4 separate regions of the Homo sapiens genome follow, and regions 1, 2 and 4 are each linked to region 3. The links come from fine-mapping of genetic effects on gene expression. A gene starts in region 3. Each other region holds a variant in brackets. All regions are shown on one strand. Distances are between the middles of the regions.

What was found. PIP is the estimated chance that this variant, and not a neighbour inherited with it, causes the effect. A credible set is the group of variants that fine-mapping cannot tell apart.
Region 1: its variant is the best candidate, but not a certain one, in a credible set for the expression of CELSR1 in unexposed skin (GTEx, PIP 0.62).
Region 2: its variant is the best candidate, but not a certain one, in a credible set for the expression of CELSR1 in lung (GTEx, PIP 0.75).
Region 4: its variant is the best candidate, but not a certain one, in a credible set for the expression of CELSR1 in whole blood (INTERVAL, PIP 0.88).

Annotation. Positions count from the first base shown.
Region 1 is chr22:46,480,750-46,484,910 of GRCh38, reverse strand. All of the region lies in intron 1 of CELSR1 (cadherin EGF LAG seven-pass G-type receptor 1), which reads left to right. It also overlaps the pseudogene FAM136EP. Among named protein-coding and RNA genes, the nearest start is that of CELSR1, 55 kb to the left of the region's middle. The variant T/C (reference allele first, on the strand shown) is at 1,575.
Region 2 is chr22:46,394,881-46,399,041 of GRCh38, reverse strand. It overlaps CELSR1 (cadherin EGF LAG seven-pass G-type receptor 1), which reads left to right. Exons shown (of 35, transcript NM_001378328.1): 11 at 405-518; 12 at 1,194-1,368; 13 at 2,296-2,437. Among named protein-coding and RNA genes, the nearest start is that of TRMU, 61 kb to the right of the region's middle. The variant G/T (reference allele first, on the strand shown) is at 2,250.
Region 3 is chr22:46,535,222-46,539,382 of GRCh38, reverse strand. It overlaps CELSR1 (cadherin EGF LAG seven-pass G-type receptor 1), which reads left to right and starts at 1,763. Exons shown (of 35, transcript NM_001378328.1): 1 at 1,763-4,161. The coding sequence starts at 2,213.
Region 4 is chr22:46,419,744-46,423,904 of GRCh38, reverse strand. The region is part of intron 5 of CELSR1 (cadherin EGF LAG seven-pass G-type receptor 1); the gene reads left to right. Among named protein-coding and RNA genes, the nearest start is that of TRMU, 86 kb to the right of the region's middle. RefSeq lists a silencer at 2,582-2,631. The variant A/G (reference allele first, on the strand shown) is at 2,379.

The sequences.
Region 1 (4,161 bases), 54 kb after region 3:
TGCAAATTAATAGACGTCTGGGCCAATATTTGATCTTTTCCCCCAAAGAAAATGATTTGCTCGCCATTCACTAAATTGGAGGGAGGCGTCCCTGGAAGTAACAAGGATGATATCCTTGTTCCTGGAGGTGGGCTTCGGTAGTGTTTGGAGACCTCAGGCAGCAGCCGGACCTCCCCAGCACCTGGGCGGGGTCCCTGTGAGCGCTCACTCCAGCATCTCTGATGGCCACAGGGTCTCTGGGGCAGAACCCCCATGCCCAGCCAAAACAGGTGCTGCAGTGAGTGGGCCAGGTAGCTCTCGTGGTATGTGAGCGCAGCTGCCCCTTGCCAGGCTGTCCCGGGCTGCCCCCAGCTCTAACTTGAGGCACTAACCCTATCAGGGGTCAGTGGCTTAATATAGCCTCTCCCTGGTATTTGCATTTCAAAAGAGGTCTCTGTGAAATTATTCTGGAAGGGATTTCAGGGCCCCTGAGTGGGGACACATTTCAGGCCTAGGAGGGGTGGCTCCTCCAAGTTCCTGGCAGATGCTGCAGCCTGCATTTCTGAGGAGGGCTGGGCCCGAGGCAGCTGCCACCATGGGCTGGGCTGGGCTGGTGGAAGGAGGGACTCTGTCCCCTGCAGGACCCTCCCAGCGGTCTTGCTTGGGACTGAGCAGCTGGGGCTGGTGGGCCCTGTGGATGCCAGGTTTACTGGTGCCCAGTTCAGACCTCGGACCCGTCCCCACCGTCGTAACGGCTCTCCCCAGCAGCTCCCCTTCTCTTGCCCTGTACCCTTGGATTTCTGGGCGGAAGGCCTGGGGCGCTCCTCCCTACAGGTGAGTCTGAGAGCCAGGGCAGAGCGTGGGAGCCCGTGGGAGCCTGGGAATGTTCTGTGCTCCGTGAAATTGACAGTTGTGCTCCTTTACCTGGAGGCAAGGGATGTGGCTTCTGAGCCTGTTGGTGCCAGTGCCTTTGTTGTTACACCTTTGCTCTTAAATAGGTACAAATTATTGGTATTAGAAAGCCTTGCAGCTCCATATCCTCATTAAGCCTCTGCAGTTAATAATTATTTTTCTCTCCTGAAAGTGTTGGTGTGAAAGAGCTGAGTAGACACGTGGAGACTGCAGGCCTCACTCTACCTTGGCAGGAAGATGGCGACCTGCATCCCCAACAGACAGCTGTGTGTCCTGGGCACAGTTCCTGAGCCTTTCTGGGCCCCACATCCCTTGTCACTGGGGTAGCAGAATCTGCTCTGCCTCCCTGGGTGGTTGGAGAGGCAATAGCAGATAATGGGAGCAAAGACTTACGTAGCTCTTGCAATCCTCAGGGGACTCCAGGAGGCAGGAAATCCAATCACCCGGTTTTACTGATGAGGAAACCAAAGCACATAGAGGTTAAGTGACTTGCCCAAGTTCACAGAGGAAGTGGGTGGCAGAGTGGGATTGTCAGGGAAAGCACCTTGAATGGAAAACCTGTGGGCTGCCACTGCACTCCAGCCTGGGTGACAGAGCGAGACGCTGTCTCAAAAAAAAAAAAAAAAAAAAAAAAGTCAGGAATAGCATGTTTCCATAAAGAGGGTGTGCTCAACTGTGAGGAC[T/C]GCGCCCTAGACACCCAGTGAGGCGGGTCTCACAGTTTGTGGCTTATGTTAATTAATGTCTCATCATTAATTTATTAATAAGGTTCTTTCTAAAGTCCTTGTTTTTAATGTAATCAAAATCATACTTTTTCCCCTTTACGATAGTGTGTTGTGTGTCATGTTTAAGAATTGCTTACCTATCTCAAGATCATAAACATGATTTTGAATGATCCTTGCTAAAATAGGCTTTGTCTTTCCTGCTTAAGTCCTTAGTTCACCTGGAATTGATGTTTGTGCTTGGTGTGAGGTAGGGATCCAGTTTCACTTTGTCCGTTATGTAGACAGCTGAGTGGCTTGGGACCATGTGTGGGAATGCTCCTCTTTCCCATTTGCCAGCTCTGTTGTGTGTGCGTGTGGACCTGTTTCTGGGCTCCATCTTCTGTCCATCAGTCTGTTGGTCTGCTCCATGCCAGCACTCCCTTGTCTACAGGCTATAAATCTTGACATCAGATAGAGCTTGTTCCCCTCCCCTGTTCTCCAGGGATGCCTTGGCTATTCTTGACCTATTGGTCTTCTGTGGAGATTAGAGAATCATCTTGTGAGTTCCCTATGAAGGACCCTGTAGATAATTTTCTTTTTTTTTTGAGGCGGGATTTTGTTCTTTCACCCAGGCTGGAGTACAGTGCACAAGCTCAGCTCACTGCAACCTTTGCCTCCTGGGTTCAAGTGAGTCTCGTGCCTCAGCCTTTCGAGTAGCTGAGTTTACAGGCATATGCAATCCCACTCTGCCACCCACTTCCTCTGTGACCTTGGGCAAGTCACTTAACCTCTATGTGCTTTGGTTTCCTCATCAGTAAAACTGGGTGATTGGATTTTCTGCCTCCTAGAGTCCCCTGAGGATTGCAAGAGCTACACAGGTCTTTGCTCTCATTATCTGGTATTGCCTCTCCAGCTACCCAGGGAGGCAGAACAGATTCTGCTCTGGCTGATGGCCCTTCCTCTGTCTTCAGGGCCAGCAGCATAGAATCCCCTGACTTCCTCTGTCCCCATAAGCTCTTTCTCCCACTCTTCCTCCCTCCTCTGCTTTTAAGGATCCTGTGGCCACCCAGATCCTCCAGGATACTCTCGTGGGTTAAGGTTGCTGGTGAGCGGCCGTGCCCCTGTGCCATGTGGCATAACGCAGTCACAGCTTCTGGGGATTGAGACATGCAGCTCTTCTTGGGAAGTGAGGGTGAGACATTATTTTGTCTACCACACATGGCCATGGCCAAGATTTATAAAAGTCAGCCGGGTGCAGTAGCTCATGTCTGTGATCCCAGCACTTTGGGAGGCTGAGGCTGGTGGATCACCTGAGCTCAGGAGTTCGAGACCAGCCTGTCCAACATGGCGAAACCCCATCTCTACTAAAAATACAAAAATTAGCCAGGCTTGGTGGCACATGCCTGTAATCCCAGCTACTCGGGAGGCTGAGGCAGGAGAATCTCTTGAACCCGGGAGGCAGAGGTTGCAGTGAGCTGAGATCACGCCACTGCATGGGCAACAGAGTGAGACTCTGTTTCAAAAAAAAAAAAAAGATTTAGAAAAGTTCAAATAACTGGGGCAGCACAGGGTTGCCACTGGGGAGCTGCAGCAGCTGCGGGTGCAGGAGGTGGTGGACTCCATGGTGAAGAGTCTGGAGAGAGAGAACATCTGGAAGATGCATTGTCTCATGTTCTGGTGCAGCACCAGCTGTTGTGAGGACAGTCAGGCCTCCACGGAGCAGGTGCACCAGTGCATCGAGTGCCACCATGTGCCTCTGGCTTAAGCCCAGGCTTTGATCACCAGTGAGCTGGAGAAGTTCCAGGACCACCTGGTCCGGTGCACCACGCATTGCAACGACAAAGCCAAAGATTCAATAGATGCTGGGAGTAAGGAGCTTCAGTTGAAGCAGAAGCTGGAAGGTGGTGTGACCAAGTGTGTGGATGACCACATGCACCTGCTCCCAACTATGACCGAGAAGGTGAAGGAGGCTCTCTCATCCATTGGGAAATAAAAGTCTTTGCCAGTGGCCATCGGGGCTGAGGGCAATAATGTATTTTTTATAAGGAATTGGGAATTTTAGTCTTTTTTTTTTTTGAGACATGGTCTTGTTCTTTCGCGCAGGCTGGAAGGCTGGAGTGCAGTGGCACGATCTCAGCTCACTGCAACCTCCACCTCCCAGGTTCAAGCCATTTTTCTGCCTCAGCCTCCTGAGTAGCTGGGACTACAGGCATGCACCACCATGCCCAAGTAATTTTTGTATTTTTAGTAGAGACAGGGTTTCACCATGTTGGTCAGACTGGTCTCAAACTCCTGACCTTGTGATCCACCCGCCTCAGCCTCCCAAAGTGCTGGGATTACAGGCGTGAGCCACCGGACCCGGCCGGAATTTTAGTCTTTTAAGCAAAGTTTATGAATGAAGAAATGAAGGATGGTCGTAAGTGTAAAGCATATGTCACTTGCCTCTGGACACTGGTTCTTTTATGTTTTAGTCCTAAAAAATGAAACGGAAAAAAGTGGTGCTAAATTGGGTCAGAGATATTACAGGAGAGTTTTAGAGCTTATATTTCCTGTGGCCAGTGCTTGTCCT
Region 2 (4,161 bases), 140 kb after region 3:
GATCTCAGCCGAGACCCTCTTGGGTTCCCACAGTGTTAATGAGTGAGCGGATTTCCGTTCACTGCAGTCTTCCTGACTCGCCAAGCTCTCTGTCACAGCGTGGCTGGTTTAGTGTTGTGCCCTTGACGGAGGCGGGACAGTTGCCCACGTTGACCCCACTGGCCGCCTCAGCTAGGCTGGGGCATGGACACCCATCCTCTGGCCTGGTCCCCTCGCCCTGGTCATCACAGCCAGCCTCGCTGTCCAGCTGGGCCCAGCTCTCTCTTTGGAGGCCCAGATGTCCTCAGGCTCTGCGGAGTTTGTTGAAGTGACTGTTTAGACTTCCAGTGTATCCTTCCCATCTGAGAGACGTTTCTAGGATGGTGGATGCAGCCCCCAGATCCCCGGCCCCTCTCTCCGCACAGAACAAGGCAGATATCGGGGGCATGCTTCCCGGGCTGACGGTAAGGAGCGTGGTGGTCGGAGGCGCCTCTGAAGACAAGGTCTCCGTGCGCCGTGGATTCCGAGGCTGCATGCAGGTGCGTGGGGGTTGTGGGGGGCGGGGGGAGGCCTGCCCCTCACAGGCAGCTCCGAGGCTGGCAGCACCATAGGTGGTTCCGTTGGTCAACCTGTTAGCTTTCAACGAGTGAAGAATTTGTCTGACAGGCATCCCCACTTTAACAGCTCCTGTTTCCTCTTCAGACCCATTCTCCCCTGCGGTTCCCCTTGGCATCCGGGCCGTCCCTGGCCCCCACAGCTCCCCACCGCCATGCCAGCCACCTGCCCCTCTGCCTTTGTGAAGTGTCCTGAATCGAGCCCCTTGCCGCCACCCCCACCCAGTCCAACCACAGACGTCACCCAAGTGGGCCCCGTGCCTGTCCCCTGGAGCCAGGGGTTCCAGCTACGGCCGAGGGAGCTGCTCTGAGTCGTTCAGCTCTCAGCCCCCTCGGCAGGGACATCCACTCCTCACGCCCCCACCGCGCACCCCAGGAGCTCAGGCTGGCGTGCCCTCTGAGCTCCTCACCCAGCCCTCCACTGCACTCCGGCCAGCAGGCCGTGGGGCAAGAGGAACAACCCTGCCCGCCCCAGCTCTGTAGATAAATGAGGCATCACAGATGAATGCCTCGCAAGGGACCAGAGAGGTCTCAGGGTTCCCTTAACCCCTACATACCTTTCCGGGCTCCTGTAGCCCCAGTGCCGTTTACTTAATGCAGGGAGTGAGGATGGGGGGGACGCCCACCAACGTCGCCACCCTGAACATGAACAACGCACTCAAGGTCAGGGTGAAGGACGGCTGTGATGTGGACGACCCCTGTACCTCGAGCCCCTGTCCCCCCAATAGCCGCTGCCACGACGCCTGGGAGGACTACAGCTGCGTCTGTGACAAAGGTGGGACCGCCCTCCCGGGGCCCTTCAGTGACAGGGAGGTCTCTTATGGCTGAAACACAGGAGGGGGGCTCAGTTTAGACATTAGCGTCCCCAGCCAACTCCCTGTGGTTCCGTGGAGCCCTGAGCTTTATTTTATAACAAGCGGGCCCCTCCTAGAGAGAGACTCTGAGCCTCTTCCTTACTCAAGGCACAGAGTGCCCCAGGCGCTCTCCTCAGCACATGGGGTGATCAGCAAAGAAACAGTGAAAAGTAAGGCCGGGTGCAGTGGCTCATACCTGTAATCCCAGCACTTTGGGAGGCCGAGGTGGGTGGATCACTTGAAGCCAGGAGTTCAAGACCAGCCAGGCAACATGGTGAAACCCCATCTCTACGAAAAAAAAAAAAAAAAAAAAAAAAGCAAAAATTAGCCAGGCATGGTGGCACGCATCTGTAGTCCTAGCTACGTGGGAGGCTGAGGTGGGAGGATCACTTGAGCTTCTTAGGCAAAGGTTCCAGTGAGCTGAGATCATGCCACTGCACCTCAGCCTGGGCAACAGAGCAAGACTCTTCTCAATAAATAAATAAATAAAAGAATTAGTGAAAAGTGCATATTAAGAAAATCCTCCATTCAGGGTGGCCTCAGAGTTTTGAGGTGCTTAAGTCATCTTCTGCTGGTGGCCATTCCCCATGTGTCCTGGGGCAGCCTGGGCCCCGTGTTCCAAGGCTCTCACCCTCCTTGGGGCAGCCCGGGAAGGCCTTCCTCTCTGCATCACTAAGTCTAACCCGCCTAACGCTGTGTTTTCGGGGACTCTGTGGCACTCTTCCTCTTCCCTCTGCTGAGTACCAGGGAAAGTCAGATCTTCTGGAGGGGACAGGTTGCTCCAGATATTTTAACGTGGAAG[G/T]TCTCGTGGATTGTGGGTGGAGGTAATGCTGGCTCTGTCCTTGCAGGGTACCTTGGAATAAACTGTGTGGATGCCTGTCACCTGAACCCCTGCGAGAACATGGGGGCCTGCGTGCGCTCCCCCGGCTCCCCGCAGGGCTACGTGTGCGAGTGTGGGCCCAGTCACTACGGGCCGTACTGTGAGAACAAGTAAGAGCAGCCCCTGGTGCCTCCCTGCACCTTCAGAGTCCATGTGGCTGTGTTCCCTCGACTCAGTGTCTTCTCTTTCTTATTTTGACCCAAAGATATGTGTGATTCTGGGTAACAGGGACATATTTTTTTTTAATTTGGCATGAATTAAGTGAAAATCAAATTTTTTTTAATTTTTATTTTATTTTTATTTTTTTGAGACAGAGTCTTGCTCTGTCACCCAGGCTGGAGTGCAATGGCGCGATCTTGGCTCCTTGCAACCTCTGCCTCCTGGGCTCAAGTGATTCTCCTGCCTCGGCCTCCCGAGTAGCTGGTCCTACAGGTGCCCGCCACCATGCCCAGCTAATATTTTGTATTTTTAGTAGAAATGGAGTTTCACCATATTGGTCAGGCTGGTCTCGAACTCCTGACCTCAAGTGATCCACCTGCCTCAGCCTCCCAAAGTGCTGGGATTACGGGTGTGAGCCACCACGCTTGGGCAATGAGAATCAATTTGGACGTCTCAAACTAACCCCATTGGATCATGTGTCCACACCTGAAACATGCAAATGACTCACCTGGAGTCCTCACTGGGCCCAGAGCAAACAGGCCCCATGAGATGCAGGGAGACGCATGTGGTTTACAGAGAATGCTTTCTCTGTCGAGTCGCTGGGCTTGAAGTCATTTCTGATGTGTGCGGAGATCCTAGTGTGGTTAGGACAGGCAGCAGCGTGCTCTCTGGGCTCTGGGCTCTGTACCCTTTGCACGGGGATCGCTGGGTACAGGTGCGTAGTCATCACAAGCGTCACTTTGTCCAAGGTGGAGCTGCTGGGTTCTTCATAAACCAAGGTTCCAGGCCGCCGTGGAGGTGATGCCCCTGTGGCTCATTGTCCTCAGCTGCTGGTGGCCATCAGGTGCAGGGACACCTGCTATGCTCCGTTCTTTGTCCTCCCGAGCCTAGAGCAGGTGCTGTGATCCCGGCTGTGACCCCATGAGTGGGAAGCAGCCTGTGCCCTGGAGCTGGTGACCTCACGAGAAGATGGCACCACATCATTCTTGGATATCAGCAAGATGTGATGCCAGGGAGAGCGCCGCGGAGGTGCCCTGGGAGTGGAGAGGGAGGTGGGAGCCAGTGTGGCTGAAGCGGGAGGGCATTCTGGGAGCGAAAGCAACAGAGCCAAGCTGGAGAGGAGTAAGGGGATGAGGCTGATCTAGAGAGGCCTGGGTGGGGACAGAGGTGGGCCCGCAAGCCAGGAACAGAATTCGGCTGTGTGGAGGCCGTGGGGGCCCAGCACTAAAGTGGCAGGACCTGGTCTTAGGGAACCCCCACCTGCCGCATGGAGCACAGCTTGGAGCAGGGGGAGTTGCCAAGAGGCTGATCCAGCATCTCCATGCCCGGCGCCACAGTCACCACTGCTGCAGGGGGATGAAGGTTCTGGGGCCCCCACGCTGCACACACACATCCATAAACGCCAGACTCTATCTCTGGCCTGGTTGTCTTTATGACCCTGATTTGTACACAGTCCTTAATACTTGCTCGCCAAGTGAGTGAATGCTAGAGGCTGGCAGCTGGGTGGAGGGAACTTGGTTAGCCAGGGGGGATTGCAGGAGCCCGCAGGACACTCGGGCGGGGCCGTTGCAGGCAGGTGGGCCTTCAGGTGACTGCGCAGGTGCAGCCCTGTCAGGAACAGGTAGGGAGACTCATGCACAGCAGCGGCCAGCACCTCGGAGGCCTGGCTTTGTCC
Region 3 (4,161 bases):
TTTTTCCTCCTGCCTGGGTCCCCTTCAGGTCCGCCCAGTAGCCTTCCACTGGGAGGCTCCGGGCTCAGGGACCCGCCCTGCCTTCCGGCCCCAGAACTCCTGTCCTTTCATCCTTCCCGGAAAAATCCCAGTGGAAGGGTATATGGCGGGTGGGGAGGTCCTGGACCGCTCACATTAAGGAGACGGACTTTTCTCCTTCCTCCCCTCCCTCCACACACACATTTCCCAACAGGACTCTCCAGTGGAAACCTCGAATTAAAAGGTTCCAAAGCAACTCCACCTTTTAGATCAATATAACGTGTTCAAATCCTTGCTACTGGGAAGAAAATGCTCACATTGGGCTTCAGCACAAAGACACTGTTTCAGCAGCTTTGAGCGAAGTTGGCTGAGTATGCGTGTGACACACACACAGACACATCGCTCCGGGGGAGAAACCCTTCCGGTTCTCCACAGCCGCCCACGGTCCTCGTTGAGACTGGACTCATCTCAGCTCAGCTCAGAGATTTGGCTGCAGGATCCGACCCTCCCTTGCCAAAAAGACCCGTTCTAGGGGTGACTGCGCATTACTCCCACCCCCACCGCTCCGACCGGCCCCAGGAGAAGCCCTTCTAGGAGAGAAGAGGCGACCCCCACCTACCGTCCCCGACCACTGGGAGGCCTAAGGGCTGCACTGGACTCCGGCGCCCCGAGCGCCACCAAGGGAGTGCGCGCCCTTCCCAGCCGCTGGTGGCACAGTCCCAAAGCCCCGCCCATGCGGGGGGTCGCCAAGTCCTAAGCCTCCACCCCCTTTATCCCTGTGCCCCATCCGGAGGCAGGTGTACCCGTCACGCAAACCTAAAGCTGCCCCCGGCCCCCCGTGGTTCCCCGCAGGAGGCGGGGGTGTGTGTCACTTTTCTGAAAGCTCTAAGGTCTCTGCCCCCCGCCCCCCGCTGTCCTCCGTAGGAGGCTGGGCAGGGGCTGTGGCACAGCTCTAAATCCCTGCGGGTGCTTGCTTGCCCCAGGCAGCTTCCAGGACCCGCAGCCCCCCGCCTTCCCCGCAACCCGCTTCGGGAGGAGCCGGACGCTCGGGGATTCCGCGATGCGTCCGCGAACGCTCGGGTCGGGCCGCACGCGGGAGATGAGCGCGCCTCCGCCGTCCTCTCCAAATCCCTTATGTCAACCGGGGTTTTCTTCTTTCATTTAAAAGTTGCGCTTTAAACCAAGTGGGACGCAGATCCGGTAGCTGCCTATTGGGCTTCAAAGTCCAGGGAGTTTTAGTCGGGGTGAAGCATTTTAGCCTCCGTGCGTCTTGCTGTAAAATGGGTAACCCTCCTCGACAGCCTCCGCAGTCCTTAATGGGTGGGGGGGGGCTCCCCGGCCTCTCGGCCCCAGTCCTCCGCCCCCGGGTCCTACCCGCGCGGCACTCCTGGCGGCGGTCTCCGTGGATCTGTTCTGCCGGGGTGGGGAGCCAGGCTCTGAGCCGCGGCCCCGAGCCCGAGGTGCGGAGCCACCGCCCCACGGGTAGCGGCCACCGGGGGCCCCAGCCCCACCTTTCCCGGCCCTGTTGCCTCGGCCCCGCCCCACCGGGAGGCTGGGTGGGGAGGCCTCCGGGGAGTAGGGCCCCAGTCCCCGTCCCGGCCGCGCCCTCGCGTCTCCATAGCGATCCTCTCGGCGCGCACCTCCGAGCCGGCTCCCCCCGGGGCCGAACAATACGCCGCTGGGCCGGGGGCGGGGCGGGGCCGGGCCGGGGGCGGGGAGAGCGCGGGCGGAGTGGGCGCGGGCCAAGCGCACCGCCCAGGCAGCAGCCGGCCGCCGGGGTCTGCGCGGCGCGGAGCTGCCCAGCCCGCTCCGGGAACTCAGCCCCCGCCCCGCGCCGGGCCCGCCCCGCTTCCCACGCCCGTCCGGCCGAGCCCGCGCCGGAGCCACCTGGAGCCGCCTGGAGCCGCCGCCGCCGCCGCAGGTTGATGCGCGGCGCCCTCCCGGGACGCGCGGAGGAGCCATCTTGAAACCAACTTCGCAAACTTTCGCAAAGTGCTCTCGAAGTGGAAGCTGCGGGGGAGGCCGGGCGCGTGGTCCCCACAGTCCCCGCCAGGGCCCCCGGGGAGGCGGGACGCGGACCGCCCCGAGGGCCGGGCGCCCGGGAGCCGCTCCCCGGCCTCGCCGGGTGGATGCGGAGGCGCGCCGGGTGCATGGATTGTGTTCGGGCGCCCGGCTCGGGCTCGGGCTCCGGGCCATGGCGCCGCCGCCGCCGCCCGTGCTGCCCGTGCTGCTGCTCCTGGCCGCCGCCGCCGCCCTGCCGGCGATGGGGCTGCGAGCGGCCGCCTGGGAGCCGCGCGTACCCGGCGGGACCCGCGCCTTCGCCCTCCGGCCCGGCTGTACCTACGCGGTGGGCGCCGCTTGCACGCCCCGGGCGCCGCGGGAGCTGCTGGACGTGGGCCGCGATGGGCGGCTGGCAGGACGTCGGCGCGTCTCGGGCGCGGGGCGCCCGCTGCCGCTGCAAGTCCGCTTGGTGGCCCGCAGTGCCCCGACGGCGCTGAGCCGCCGCCTGCGGGCGCGCACGCACCTTCCCGGCTGCGGAGCCCGTGCCCGGCTCTGCGGAACCGGTGCCCGGCTCTGCGGGGCGCTCTGCTTCCCCGTCCCCGGCGGCTGCGCGGCCGCGCAGCATTCGGCGCTCGCAGCTCCGACCACCTTACCCGCCTGCCGCTGCCCGCCGCGCCCCAGGCCCCGCTGTCCCGGCCGTCCCATCTGCCTGCCGCCGGGCGGCTCGGTCCGCCTGCGTCTGCTGTGCGCCCTGCGGCGCGCGGCTGGCGCCGTCCGGGTGGGACTGGCGCTGGAGGCCGCCACCGCGGGGACGCCCTCCGCGTCGCCATCCCCATCGCCGCCCCTGCCGCCGAACTTGCCCGAAGCCCGGGCGGGGCCGGCGCGACGGGCCCGGCGGGGCACGAGCGGCAGAGGGAGCCTGAAGTTTCCGATGCCCAACTACCAGGTGGCGTTGTTTGAGAACGAACCGGCGGGCACCCTCATCCTCCAGCTGCACGCGCACTACACCATCGAGGGCGAGGAGGAGCGCGTGAGCTATTACATGGAGGGGCTGTTCGACGAGCGCTCCCGGGGCTACTTCCGAATCGACTCTGCCACGGGCGCCGTGAGCACGGACAGCGTACTGGACCGCGAGACCAAGGAGACGCACGTCCTCAGGGTGAAAGCCGTGGACTACAGTACGCCGCCGCGCTCGGCCACCACCTACATCACTGTCTTGGTCAAAGACACCAACGACCACAGCCCGGTCTTCGAGCAGTCGGAGTACCGCGAGCGCGTGCGGGAGAACCTGGAGGTGGGCTACGAGGTGCTGACCATCCGCGCCAGCGACCGCGACTCGCCCATCAACGCCAACTTGCGTTACCGCGTGTTGGGGGGCGCGTGGGACGTCTTCCAGCTCAACGAGAGCTCTGGCGTGGTGAGCACACGGGCGGTGCTGGACCGGGAGGAGGCGGCCGAGTACCAGCTCCTGGTGGAGGCCAACGACCAGGGGCGCAATCCGGGCCCGCTCAGTGCCACGGCCACCGTGTACATCGAGGTGGAGGACGAGAACGACAACTACCCCCAGTTCAGCGAGCAGAACTACGTGGTCCAGGTGCCCGAGGACGTGGGGCTCAACACGGCTGTGCTGCGAGTGCAGGCCACGGACCGGGACCAGGGCCAGAACGCGGCCATTCACTACAGCATCCTCAGCGGGAACGTGGCCGGCCAGTTCTACCTGCACTCGCTGAGCGGGATCCTGGATGTGATCAACCCCTTGGATTTCGAGGATGTCCAGAAATACTCGCTGAGCATTAAGGCCCAGGATGGGGGCCGGCCCCCGCTCATCAATTCTTCAGGGGTGGTGTCTGTGCAGGTGCTGGATGTCAACGACAACGAGCCTATCTTTGTGAGCAGCCCCTTCCAGGCCACGGTGCTGGAGAATGTGCCCCTGGGCTACCCCGTGGTGCACATTCAGGCGGTGGACGCGGACTCTGGAGAGAACGCCCGGCTGCACTATCGCCTGGTGGACACGGCCTCCACCTTTCTGGGGGGCGGCAGCGCTGGGCCTAAGAATCCTGCCCCCACCCCTGACTTCCCCTTCCAGATCCACAACAGCTCCGGTTGGATCACAGTGTGTGCCGAGCTGGACCGCGAGGAGGT
Region 4 (4,161 bases), 120 kb after region 3:
TCCTGAGTTCAAGCCATTCTCCTGCCCTCAGCCTCCCAAGTAGCTGGGATTACAGGTGCGCACCACCACCACGCCTGGCTAATTTTGGTATTTTTAGTAGAGATGGGATTTCACCATGTTGGCCAGGCTGGTCTCGAACTCCTGACCTCAGGTGATCCAACTGCCTCAGCCTCCCAAAGTGCTGGATTATAGGCGTGAGCCACCGCACCCGGCCCATACTTGTTAATAGTGCTCATCGGATAGCTTTTTCAAGGTCATAAACTGCCTAAAGCATGGAGTCTTTTTTTTTTTTTTTTTCTGAGACGAAGTTTCGCTCCTGTTGCCCAGGCTGGAGTGTAAAGGCGCGATCTCGGCTCACCGCAACCTCTGCCTCCCAGGTTCAAGCAATTCTCCTGCCTCAGCCTCCCGAGTAGGTGGGATTACAGGCCTGCACCACCACGCCCGGCTAATTTTGTATTTTTAGTAGAGACGGGGTTTCTCCATGTTGAGGCTGGTCTTGAACTCCTGACCTCAGGTGATCTGCCCCCCTCGGCCTCCCAAAGTGCTGGGATTACAGGCGTGAGCCACCGCGCCTGGCCAGCATGGAGTCTTGATCAGATATTTATTATTCCTGGTGATGCAGTGGTTTGGCTGCTGGTTCTTCTGGTCTATGCGATTCAGCCAGGGCTGTGTGAAGGCCTCACTCATATGACCTGGCCGTTAGCCATGGCAGCTGGGGCCTCTCATCTTCCAGCAGGCCACCCTGGCCGTTCACTTGGTGGCAGGGGGTTCCTAGCAGCCAGAGAGGGCGAGTCCCAGTGCACGGTGCTTTCCAGGCCTTATCTCGTGTCCTTGTGCCCTGATGTCCTGTTGCCCAGGTCATGTGGCCAAGCCCAGCCTCTAGGTAGAGACATGGACCATTGGTGGCAAGAGCCAGGAGGTGGCATTGCAGAGGCCAGACGTACAGTGCAGGAGGCATCATCGTGGCCCTTATAGCAAAGGTGGATACCAATGGGAAGAAGAATGCAAAGTGAGGTGGATTTCGTGTTCCTTTTATGCCCTTCTGTGCCTTCTTACATGCACTTGAGTTCTTTGTATTTAAAAAAACAATATAGCAGTTATCTGGGTCATGGGACTATGAGCCATTTTTTTTTTTTTTGAGATGGAGTCTCGCTCTGTCGCCCAGGCTGGAGTGCAGTGGCGTGATCTCAGCTCACTGCAAGCTCCACCTCCTGGGTTCACACCATTCTCCTGCCTCAGTCTCCTGAGTAGCTGGGACTACAGGCGCCCACCACCATGCCCGGCTAATTTTTATTTATTTATTTATTTATTTTTTATTATTATTATTTTTTTTTAGTAGAGACGGGGTTTCACCGTGTTGGCCAGGATGGTCTCAGTCACCTGACCTCGTGATCCGCCCCCCCTTGGCCTCCCAAAGTGCTGCGATTACAGGTGTGAGCCACTGCGCCCGGCCCTGGTTTTTTCTTTTAAATATTCTGTTTAAAAAAATCATTTGAGGGCCAGGCACGGTGGCTCACGCCTGTAATCCTAGCACTTTGGGAGGCCGAGGCAGGCAGATCACTTGAAGTCAGGAGTTCAAAACCAGCCTGGCCAACCTGGCAAAACCCCATCTCTACTAAAAATACAAAAAAATTAGCCGGGCGTGGTGGCAGGTGCCCATAATCTCAGCTACTCGGGAGGCTGAGGCAGGAGAATCTCTTGAACCTGGGAGGTAGAGGTTGCAGTGAGCCAAGACCGTGCCACTGCACTCTAGCCTGGGCGACAGAGTGAGACTCTGTCTCAAAAATAAAACAAAAAAAATAAACAAAAAGATAATTGGATATACAGAATATGTAAGATAAAGAAGCTAAACTTTTACAAAGTTAATTAAGCCTTGCAAAGTATGTAAAATCCTTATGATAAAGGAGGTGGCCATGCAGGCTGGTAATTTTGCCCTCAGGGCCTTGTTGGCTTTGATTCTGTCTCATAGGAAGTTCCGTGTTTAAGAGGAGGGGATGGGGATGCTCCCCAGGTGTTCCGTGGCTGCGTGAAAGGTCACGCCCTTCGTGAGCTTCCCTGGCTTCTCCAGCCCCAGCAGGTGTTCTGTCAAATCCACTAGTGGGGCCTCTGCTAAGGCAGTCTGCACGTGCTCCCATCAGTTGGTGAAGTCGGCGGCCACTGCCTTTACTTACCCTGCATCTCGGACTCAGGATGTTCCTGCCTCCTTGAGCCCAAGTGATGGGGGCATAGAAGCCGATAGAGGGGTCTTCAGGTGGCTAGCGAGCTCTGCCAGAAAGGTGGTGCAGGGCCCTGCTTGCAGGCGCTGTGGCAGGTGGGGGCTGCCCCGATGCTGCTATGTGATGTGACAGATAAGTCACTTGGTTTCCGTTCCCAAACAC[A/G]GGCCTGGTCAGGTGGTAGAAAGTCACCTGCTATGGAAACGTGGTGATTCTCGGAGGCAAGCGCCGCCCCACCCTGGGCCTTTGTGTTACAGAACCCTGTTATGGAAAGTCGCCCCAGGGCTGGAGCAGCCCTCAGTTTCACGCCCGGCTGAGGTTGCTTCCTGTCTGGCATCATAGCCACTGTCCTCCAGCAGCCTCTGTCTCACCCCCATCCTTCCCACCCCACCCAACCCCTCACTGCTGGGGCTCTGAGATGCACTGTGCCACGGCTGCCTCCCTCCCCTCTCTGGGCTCCTGGCCTTTCCCGCCTCTACCCCCCCAGCACCTCGGCAGGGAGGGTGGTGGTGGCTGAAGTGTACTGGCTGATGTCCTGTCTTGTGCCAGGCTCATGTGTGTCCCCCACGTGATCCTCATGTTAGCTCCTGGAGGAGGAGGTGCTGTTGCTGTTTCACAGATGAGGAAACTGAAGCACAGAGTAGATGATGGGAGGGCCGGGTTTAGGCGGAGCCATGGACCCAGCATCTCTCACCCACCCGTGTATCCGCTGCTCTGGGACGTGCCATCCGAGGGCTGTCGCGTTTTCCTGCCGTGACCATCCCCGGCCCCCACCTTCTCCCTGTCTTATCCAGGCGCTTCCATGCTCTGTCCCCCAATTCAGCCCTCTCCCCACCTTCACCTTATCACACAGATACTGAGCATGTCACCCCTTAGTGGGATGCAGGCCAGGAGGGAGGGAGGCTGGTCAGAAAGGTCATCAGGGCAAGAAGAGGCAGGGGGACTAAGGAAGGGGGTCCCGCGGGCCCAGATCGAGGACAGAGAGGGGACTATTAGGTCTTTACAGGAGCAGGCCATGACTTTGTATGAGCATGTGTTAGTGTGCAAGACTGTGTGCAAGGTGAGTGTGTACAGGTGAGTATATTGTGCAAGCATGAGCACGAGTATGGGTGAGCATGTGTGCACACAAGTGTGTGCTAGTATATCTGTGTGTGCACATGCAAGTATGAATGATGTGAGTGGGTGTGTCCACGTGTGCACACGTGTGAGTGCATACGTGAGTGGGTGAGTGCACCTGGGTGAGTATGCATGTGTGTGGGTGTGTGCACGTGTGTGAAGAAGCACACGTGTAAATGTGTGGGTGAGTGCACATTTGAGTGGGTGAGCATGCACATGTGGGTAAATGTGCACATGAGTGCACGAGTGGGTGAGTGCATACGTGAGTGCACATGAGTGGCTGAGTGTGCATATATGAGTGCACGTGTGTGGGCGAGTGCATTTGAGTGTGGGTGAGCATATGTGGGTGTGAATGTGGGTATGTACGAGTGTGGGTAGGTGTGCACATGTGAGTATGAATGAGTGCACGTGTGGGTGAGGGCACATTTGAGTGGGTGAGTGTATATGTGAGTGTGAATGTGGATGAGTATGCACGAGTGTGGGTAGGTGTGCACATGTGAGTATGAGCGCACGTGTGGGTGAGTGCACATTTGAGTGTGAGTGTCGGTAAGTGCACGTGGGTTTTGAGTATGCACATGATTGTGGGTGAGTGTACATAAGGGTGAGTGCACGTGTGCGTGGGTGAGTGTGCATGAGTTTGGGTAAGTGTACGTGTGAGCGTATGAATAAATGCACATGAATGTGAGAAGGCACGTGTGGGAGTGCACATGTGGGTGTGAATGCGGGTATGCACGTGAGCGTGGGTAAATGTGCACGAGTATGAGTGCATGTGCATGGGTGAGGGCGCATTTGAGTGTGAGTGGTGAGTGTGCACGTGTGGGTTTGAGTATGC